Linked DNA regions of Homo sapiens. The protein of the gene in region 1 interacts with the protein of each later gene in a pairwise test. Each region holds a gene or a part of one and is shown on either strand. Other genes may lie near its edges. The genes, in order: CAP2 and DSCAM.

Region 1 (3,821 bases):
CATTGTAAATATATGTCCAAGAGAAATTAAAACATATGCTCACAAAAAAACCTGTACACAGATGTTGACAGCAACACCATTTATAATAACCAAGAGGTGGAAACAAACCAAATGACTATCAGTTGATGAGTGGATAAATAAAAGGTGGTATATCCATACAGCGAGATATTATTTGGCCATAAAAAAGAGTGGAGTACTGATACATGCTACAACATCGATGAATCTTGAAAACATTATGCTAAGTGAAAGAAGCCAGTCAAAATATCACGTACTGTATGATCTATTCATTTGAAAATGTCCAGACCAAGGAAATGTATACAGCTAGAAAGTAGATTTTTTGTTGCTTAGGGCTGAAGGGGCTGGAGGTGGGTTGAGTAGGGAAGTGATAGATAAAGGTCACAGGGTTTCTTTTTGAGGTGAAACATGAAAATATCCTCTAATCGACTATAGTGATAGTCGCACGTATCTGTGAATATACTAAAAACCATTGAGTTGTACACCTTTAATGGGTGAATTGTGTGGTATGTGAATTACATCTCAATAAAATTGTTAAAGAAAATAAACAGAAAACTAGGGGAAAAAGTACTAGATTGTTAGTATCCAGTTGCATCTTTGTGTTTTTCCTCTGTGCCTGCTCTCATGTCCCTCCCAACCCTGAATTTTGTGTTAATCATTCCCTGGTTTATTGTAAAACAGTTTTATCACATGTGTATGTATTCCAAAACAATAGTGTTTAGGTTTGTTTTTTTGGTTTATGAAAAAAGGTATTTATAATCTCGCATTCTCTTTTGAGATGGAGTCTCTCTCTGTCGCCCAGGCTGGAATGGAGTGGCACAGTCTCAGCTCACTACAACCTCCGCCTCTCAGGTTCAAGAGATGCTCCCGCCTCAGCCTCCTGAGTAGCTGGGATTACAGACGCGGGCCACCATGCCTGGCTAATTTTTGCATTTTTAGTAGAGAAGGGGTTTCACCATGTTGCCCAGGCTGGTCTCAAACTCCTGACCTCAGGTAATCTGCCGTTCTCGGCCTCCCAAAGTACTGGGATTACAGGCCTGAGCCACCGCACCCAGCCTAATCTTGCATTCTTAAAATTCAACATTAGGTCATTAAGAATTACCCACATTGGGCTGGGCGTGGTGGCTCACGCCTGTAATCCCAACATTTTGGGAGGCCGAGGCGGGCGCATCACGAGGTCAGGAGATCGAGACCATCCTGGCTAACGTGGTGAAACCCCATCTCTACTAAAAAATACAAAAAATTAGCCGGGCGTGGTGGCGGGCACCTATAGTGCCAGCTACTCGGGAGGCCGAGGCAGGAGAATGGCGTGAACCCGGGAGGCGGGGCTTGCAGTGAGCCGAGATCGCGCCACTGCACTCCAGCCTGGGCGACAGAGCGAGACTCCATATCAAAAAAAAAAAAAAAAAAAAAAAGAATTACCCACGTTGTTGCATGTAGGTATGTAATATTTCTTGGCAAATATTCCATGATTTATTTCACCATTCTTGTTGACAGGCATTTGGGTTGGTTCCCATGTTTTGCTATTACAAAGAATGCTGCTTTGAAGACTTTTTTTCCATGTGTCTTGGCACACATGTGCAAGAGTTCTTCACTGTGAATGTGCCATGTATTTTAATGGGAAAAAAAAAAAAAGAAAACCTGATTCTCCTTTGACTTACACATTGATGGCATGTAACCACTTACTCATTTCCCCAAACCAAGATAAAATGATTAGATCTGACATTCTGACTTCTCATCCTATTTACATTCTAGTTGTAAAAGTATTTCCCAACGTTTTAAGAAGTGTGGAAAATCTAAAATTTCACAACTCAATTTCACAGCAGAGCCTTTTAACCCGGTCACTCACGGACATCTTCATCTCCTTATATCACCTGGGTTTAGGATGAGAGGGAGGACAACTTTATTATTACATCAAAGGAACATTACTTTAATCAAAGTACATGAATAGTTACTAAACCTCATTAAAAGTTGCCTCGTATTGTATATCCTGCGGAGTGGTCTAGTATTTCCGATGTGATTTAGTTAGGTAAGTCTGATAACAATGAGCCTTGGGCAGATCTAGATCTGTCGTTGAGTTAGGCAGTGAGTTTTGCCATTCATTCAGGATATTTCTCCTTGAACTTAGAAGGAGGAAAGCACCTTAAAGTCAGAACAAACCATTATGAGGAATTTTAAAATTACTTTTACTATTTTAAGATATATATAAAATTTACGATTTTAAACTTTTTTTTTTTTTTGAGACAGAGTCTTGCTCTGTCGCCCAGGCTGGAGTGCAGTGGCACGATCTCCTCTCACTGCAAGCTCTGCCTCCTGGGTTCAGGCCATTCTCCTGCCTCAGCCTCCCAAGTAGCTGGGACTACAGGTGCCCACCACCACGCCCGGCTAATTTTTTGTATTTTTAGTAGAGACGGGATTTCACCGTGTTAGCCAGGATGGTCTCAATCTCCTGACCTCATGATCTGCCCACCTCAGCCTCCCAAAGTGCTGGAATTACATGCGTGAGCCACCGTGCCCGGTCCGATTTTAAACATTTTTAAGCATACTATTCAGTGGCATTAAGCTCATTCTCACTGTTGTGCAACCATTATTATTGTCCATCTCCAGAACTTTTTCATCATCTGAAACTGAAACTTTGTACCCACTAAATATAACTCTGGATTCTCCTCTTCCACAATCCATGGCAACCACCATTCTACTTTCTGTCCCTGAATGTGCCTATTCTAAGTACCTTATACAATATTTGTCCTTTTGCTACATGAGCTTTGTTTGTTTGTTTTTGAGACAGTCTCGCTTTGTCACCCAGGCTGGAGTGCAGTGGCACCATCTCGGCTCGCTGCAACCTCCGCCTCCCAGGTTCAAGTGATTCTCGTGCCTCAGCCTTCCCAGTGCTGGGATTACAGGCGCTTGCCACCCCACCCAGCTAATTTTTATACTTTTAGTAGAGACAGGGTTTTGTCATGTTGGCCAGGCTGGTCTTGAACTCCTGACCTCAGGTAATGCACCTGCCTAGGTCTCCCAAAGTGCTGGGATTATAGGGATGAGCCACCACGCCCGGCCTACATGAGCTTTTATATCCAGGGGAATTCCATCTTGTTTTGTTTCTGTCTTTAGTAGACACTTTTCCCACTTTAGGAAAATAATGGCTTCTTTCACTGAGAAATTATGTGAAGGGATTGTTTCCCTTTCAGTATACAGCCCTATACAGAAAGGGACATAGGACATTGTCTGAAACCAGAAGAAGAAATTATGACTATTATGAATGGGGTCTTCATCTGCCCTGTCTAGTTAATTAGGCATCTAATAATCCTGGCTTCTCATTGAACACTTAGCCACCTGCAGAAGGTGCACTAGCCCCTAATTCTTAAAATTTCACATTTACCTGATACATGGAGGAAGTAAATAACCTTTGATGTTCCTGTTAGCCCTCAGCTTTTCAGAATGTAAAGGCCATTCTGCAATATAGAAGTCTGATCTAAAATCTCTTTTGTTTTGATGGGAAGGGGTATTCTGAGAGGCTGAAGGAGGGTTCCAAGAGGCTGAACATAGAAGGGAGGTAACCTAAATGGCAGTTCTGAAGAGGAAGATGGTTCCTGGGGAAGTTAGATGCTGGAGACACCAAAGACAGACCTGTAGTGGCCGGGCATGGTGGCTCACGCCTCTAATCCCAGCACTTTGGGAGGCCAAGGCGGGTGATCACAAGGTCAGGAGATTGAGACCATGCTGGCTAACACGGTGAAACCCCATCTCTATTAAAAATACAAAAAAAAAAAATTAGCTGGGCATGGTGGCACGTGCCTGTAGTC
Region 2 (3,821 bases), on another chromosome or scaffold:
GAGCACCTAAAGCAATTACATAGCTGTTGTGCAACAGTGATGAAGTCCCATCAGATACTCGAAATATGAATCTCTTTTTGAAAAGAGAAGAAAATGCCCCAAGCCACAGGCGTTTCTGGAAAATAAACATTTCTACCGTGATTGAGTCACTACGACAGAAAAAGGTGGGTAGAGCAAAAGAGTCCAGTGGTTTAGTCAGAATGCAAGATAGGGACCAGGAGAGCAAGTCCAGGAAAGCAAACTAAGAGGGGGAGCCAATCAGCTAGAGGCAGAAGAGAGAGGTGGACGGGAGGGAGGAAGGTGGACAGGAGTTAAGGAGGGGAGAAAGGCTCTGCCTATCACTTTTTCCTTTCACTCCGTAAGGAACATCATCTATTTCCACTACTCCATACCATGTGCTCTGCTCTGTGCTAAGGACACGCTCAGGCTTCGCACGCATTTCAGACTATGGAGGCTCCTGTCTAGCTAGTGAGAGAGGCAGTCACTAGCCAAATCAGCATCACCTAAATGCAGGCGTAACGATTACCACAGACTCCATCAAGGAAACAGCCAAGATTTTTAGAAAAAGGATAATATGGAGGGAACTGATTTTCAGGAGCAGATTTGTGAAACCCAACCCTTCTGAACGTCCTGGTCAGAAGCTGTCTGACCTCTGAACCAAAATCCTGTCCCTGCTTCCCTCCTGCCACCTTGACAGACCTTGCGTCACCTGCAGAAAACATCCGTGTGCTCCACCCTTTGAATTCAGAACGACATAGTGGATACTCCGTGGGGCTGCTGGAATCTTCCATTCCCACTGCCTTATCTTAACCCATAGATTCGGCAAGGGAAATGCAACTTTGAATTTTCTGGCATTTTCACAACATTGAAGAAAAGAACATAAATATAGTTGGGGGGAGGGGCGCGGAGAGATAAGATGAGCATTTTTGTGCCCAGGTCTTTGGAACTTGAAGAGTTAACCCCCCAGTCCAGGGGAACAGGTGTTTTCCAGTGGGCCTGGGGGAGAGGGAAGGGGGCTCCCGGTCCCGGAGCCTTGCCTGCGGAGATTGATGGACTGCGGAGGAGCGGGCACGTCAGCATCACCCCTGTCACCATCAGCAGGAGAAGCGGCGGCTCCTGGAATGACATTGGAAGGTCAGCCAATCAGGCGCGGAGCTGCTCCCGGAGCTGCCACCTCCGAGGCGCGCGCCACGCCGGGGTTCCCTCGCGGCTTTGGAAAGGGGGTGCAAATGCACCCTTCTGCGGGCCCGCTACCCGCTGCAACACCTGTGTTTCCTTTCTGGGCACCTTCTAGGTTTCTAGATATTGCTGTGAATACGGTCCTCCGCTGTACAGTTGAAAACAAAGGCTGCTGGACCTCGCCTGACCTGCGGTTGCCTTTGCCCGGTTCCTGTTAGACGAACTCTACGACGCCGGAGTTTGGGCGCAGTGAACTTGAGAGATCGTGGGGGAGGCGTCTTCAGAAGAAAGCCCCTGACCATCTGCATGGAGCAGTCCTCCCTCGGTGGCGGCTGGGTTTGCTGGCTCTGCTGAAGGCTGGCTGCAAGAGTCTTGTGAGGTTTGCCGCCCACTAGTGTCCTATGGCGGGGACACAATCGGCCTGCAGGTAGCACCACCTCCCTATCTCCCAGGCTGAGGGTGCGGGCACCAAGGCCCAGCGTGCACTTCAGCGCAGCAGCCAAGAAAATGCCCACACGCGCTTGTTTGTGTGGGCACACCCCTGGGTGCCTGCCCTGCTCTGGAGAGGTGGGCCACGCATGGAAACCGAGGAAATCGAAGTGCTCATTTCCGAAATACTATTGAATGCACTGCCTAATGCAAAATACATTCTTTTTCACTACCTATTAATTATTTATGAGCCACATTCATAATCTTACCCGTAGAATTCAGCTAATTTTACGAAACCTGGATGCCACATTTTGTAAATGCATCCACTTGATAAACCCATCCTTTTATTTTGCAAACATAAATTTCCAATCTACAGTGTTCACAGGTCTTTCTTTATAAAATGACCTCTCTCTCTCCCTCTCTCAATCAAGTTTTAATACGCATTGAATTGAGTCTCTTGTCGAAATACTCCGTGCACCTTACTCCAGACACATCTAACATAAAATACCTTGCCAGCTACCCGGAGGTCCAGGAATTGGGGATTAGAATTGGCAAATATTTTAGTCAAAATTAGTTCCCCTACCAGAATGCTGTATTGCGCTGGTTCTGCCCCCCGTGACTCACTGATCCCCCGAGGCAGCAAACCGTGGTCACACCAAAATGACAAAGGAGAGAGTCAAAAAGTGGAGAACGATCCACTGGCATTTATTGAAGGTCTGCGTGGCATTTTGTTTTCCTACAGAGGGCATCTTGGAGGGGCATGCAGCTTAAGTTAAAAGGCCTCGGAATTTAGGTGAACCCTGAGATTATGGATAGCTTTTTAATCTGTTTAATAAAGATGGGGGAGAAAGGGAAGTGGAGGCAGCCCTGAAATTGTTCACCTGATAACATTTCTTCCTTACATACATTTATGTGAATTAAATAAAAATCACCTTTGAAGTCCTTAAGGTGCATTTGTATTTACAAAGGTCTGCTTCTAATTAAATAAAATAGCAAGCGTGTGCTCTGTAATTTCCTATCAAGTGAATGGATGAAGCTCAAAGGTGCTGCATACTCATCTTCTCTTTAATGAGCACCTTCTTACTCCCAGCACCCCACCGTCTCTAATCTCCATGACCCTCAGGCCCCATGAAAGCGGATGCAGTAGAACTGAAAATCCCACAGCTCAGGAAAAGATGATGTCAGGAATGCATGCATGTGTGTGTGTGTGTGTGTGTGTGTGTGTGTGTGTGTGTGTAAAAACAGAGATGCCAGGATACTAGCAAAACTATATTACATATAATAAATCTAATTCTTCATCATTCTGTTTGTCTGAAGGCCTGGCTCTTCTTTTAGCAATAATTTTAAACTAGAATGTGCTCTGGGGTTAAAACCAGGAGAAATGGTAATGAAACACAATGCAGTAGGAAGCTTTGCTGAGAAGACACCGAGGGACGTGTGTGGGTGAGTGTCTGCACATACGTGTACCTTGGCTCCTTGCACTGTAACAGAAGCTCGCGTGTATTTCCAGAACATTGCAGAACAAATTGACTGCTTTAAAACACGATACTGCACCTCATCAGGTGAGGTCATTCATTTAAGGGTTTAACCTATGAAGGGCCTGGTCACTGACTTCTTCTTTTTTTTTTTTTTTTTTTCAAAAATACTGCCTGCAGCCTGTCTAGCAACCATACTTTTATTAAGAAATAACTGTACTTCTGATACATCAATAAGAAAAATATTGTTGTCTACTGTTAAAATGCAGATGTATTGTGGGCTTATTTTAATAGCCCCAAATATTAAACTACATAATCTTTTACAAATGAAAAAAAAAAGTTATCATGTCAGGCATTTTGATGCTTGAGGCCTAGCAATAATCAGTTTAGGTATTAGAATTCATCAATCTTTTATCACACACATTCAGAAATTTTTCAAAGTTGAGGTATAACAAAATATGACAGTTGTTGACAAAAATATTCTCAATTTTTTAAAGTTTAATTCAGATAGGTAGAAACCATTTACTCTTATATTTTTGAAATATGGTCTTACAAACAGGCATAGTTCCAAACTGGATTCTTATTTTATTTCAACATGTCTATATATTTTATGATCCTTTCCCCAGTATGTAATGAACACCATACCTTAGAAAACTGTTTAAAGCTGATTTCCCCTCCCCCCTTCAAAGATCCTAAAGCTTTACAGCAGGCTTTTAATGTTTTCATCCTTGATCATAT

The links.
Region 2: the proteins of CAP2 (region 1) and DSCAM interact in a two-hybrid assay, tested with the Homo sapiens proteins (one large-scale study listed by BioGRID and IntAct).

Annotation. Positions count from the first base shown.
Region 1 is NC_000006.12:17,396,288-17,400,108, forward strand, and holds part of CAP2 (adenylyl cyclase-associated protein 2), read left to right. Parts: intron 1-3,821. UniProt on the Homo sapiens protein: Involved in the regulation of actin polymerization.
Region 2 is NC_000021.9:40,840,565-40,844,385, forward strand, and holds part of DSCAM (cell adhesion molecule DSCAM isoform CHD2-42 precursor), read right to left. Parts: intron 1-3,821. UniProt on the Homo sapiens protein: Cell adhesion molecule that plays a role in neuronal self-avoidance. Promotes repulsion between specific neuronal processes of either the same cell or the same subtype of cells.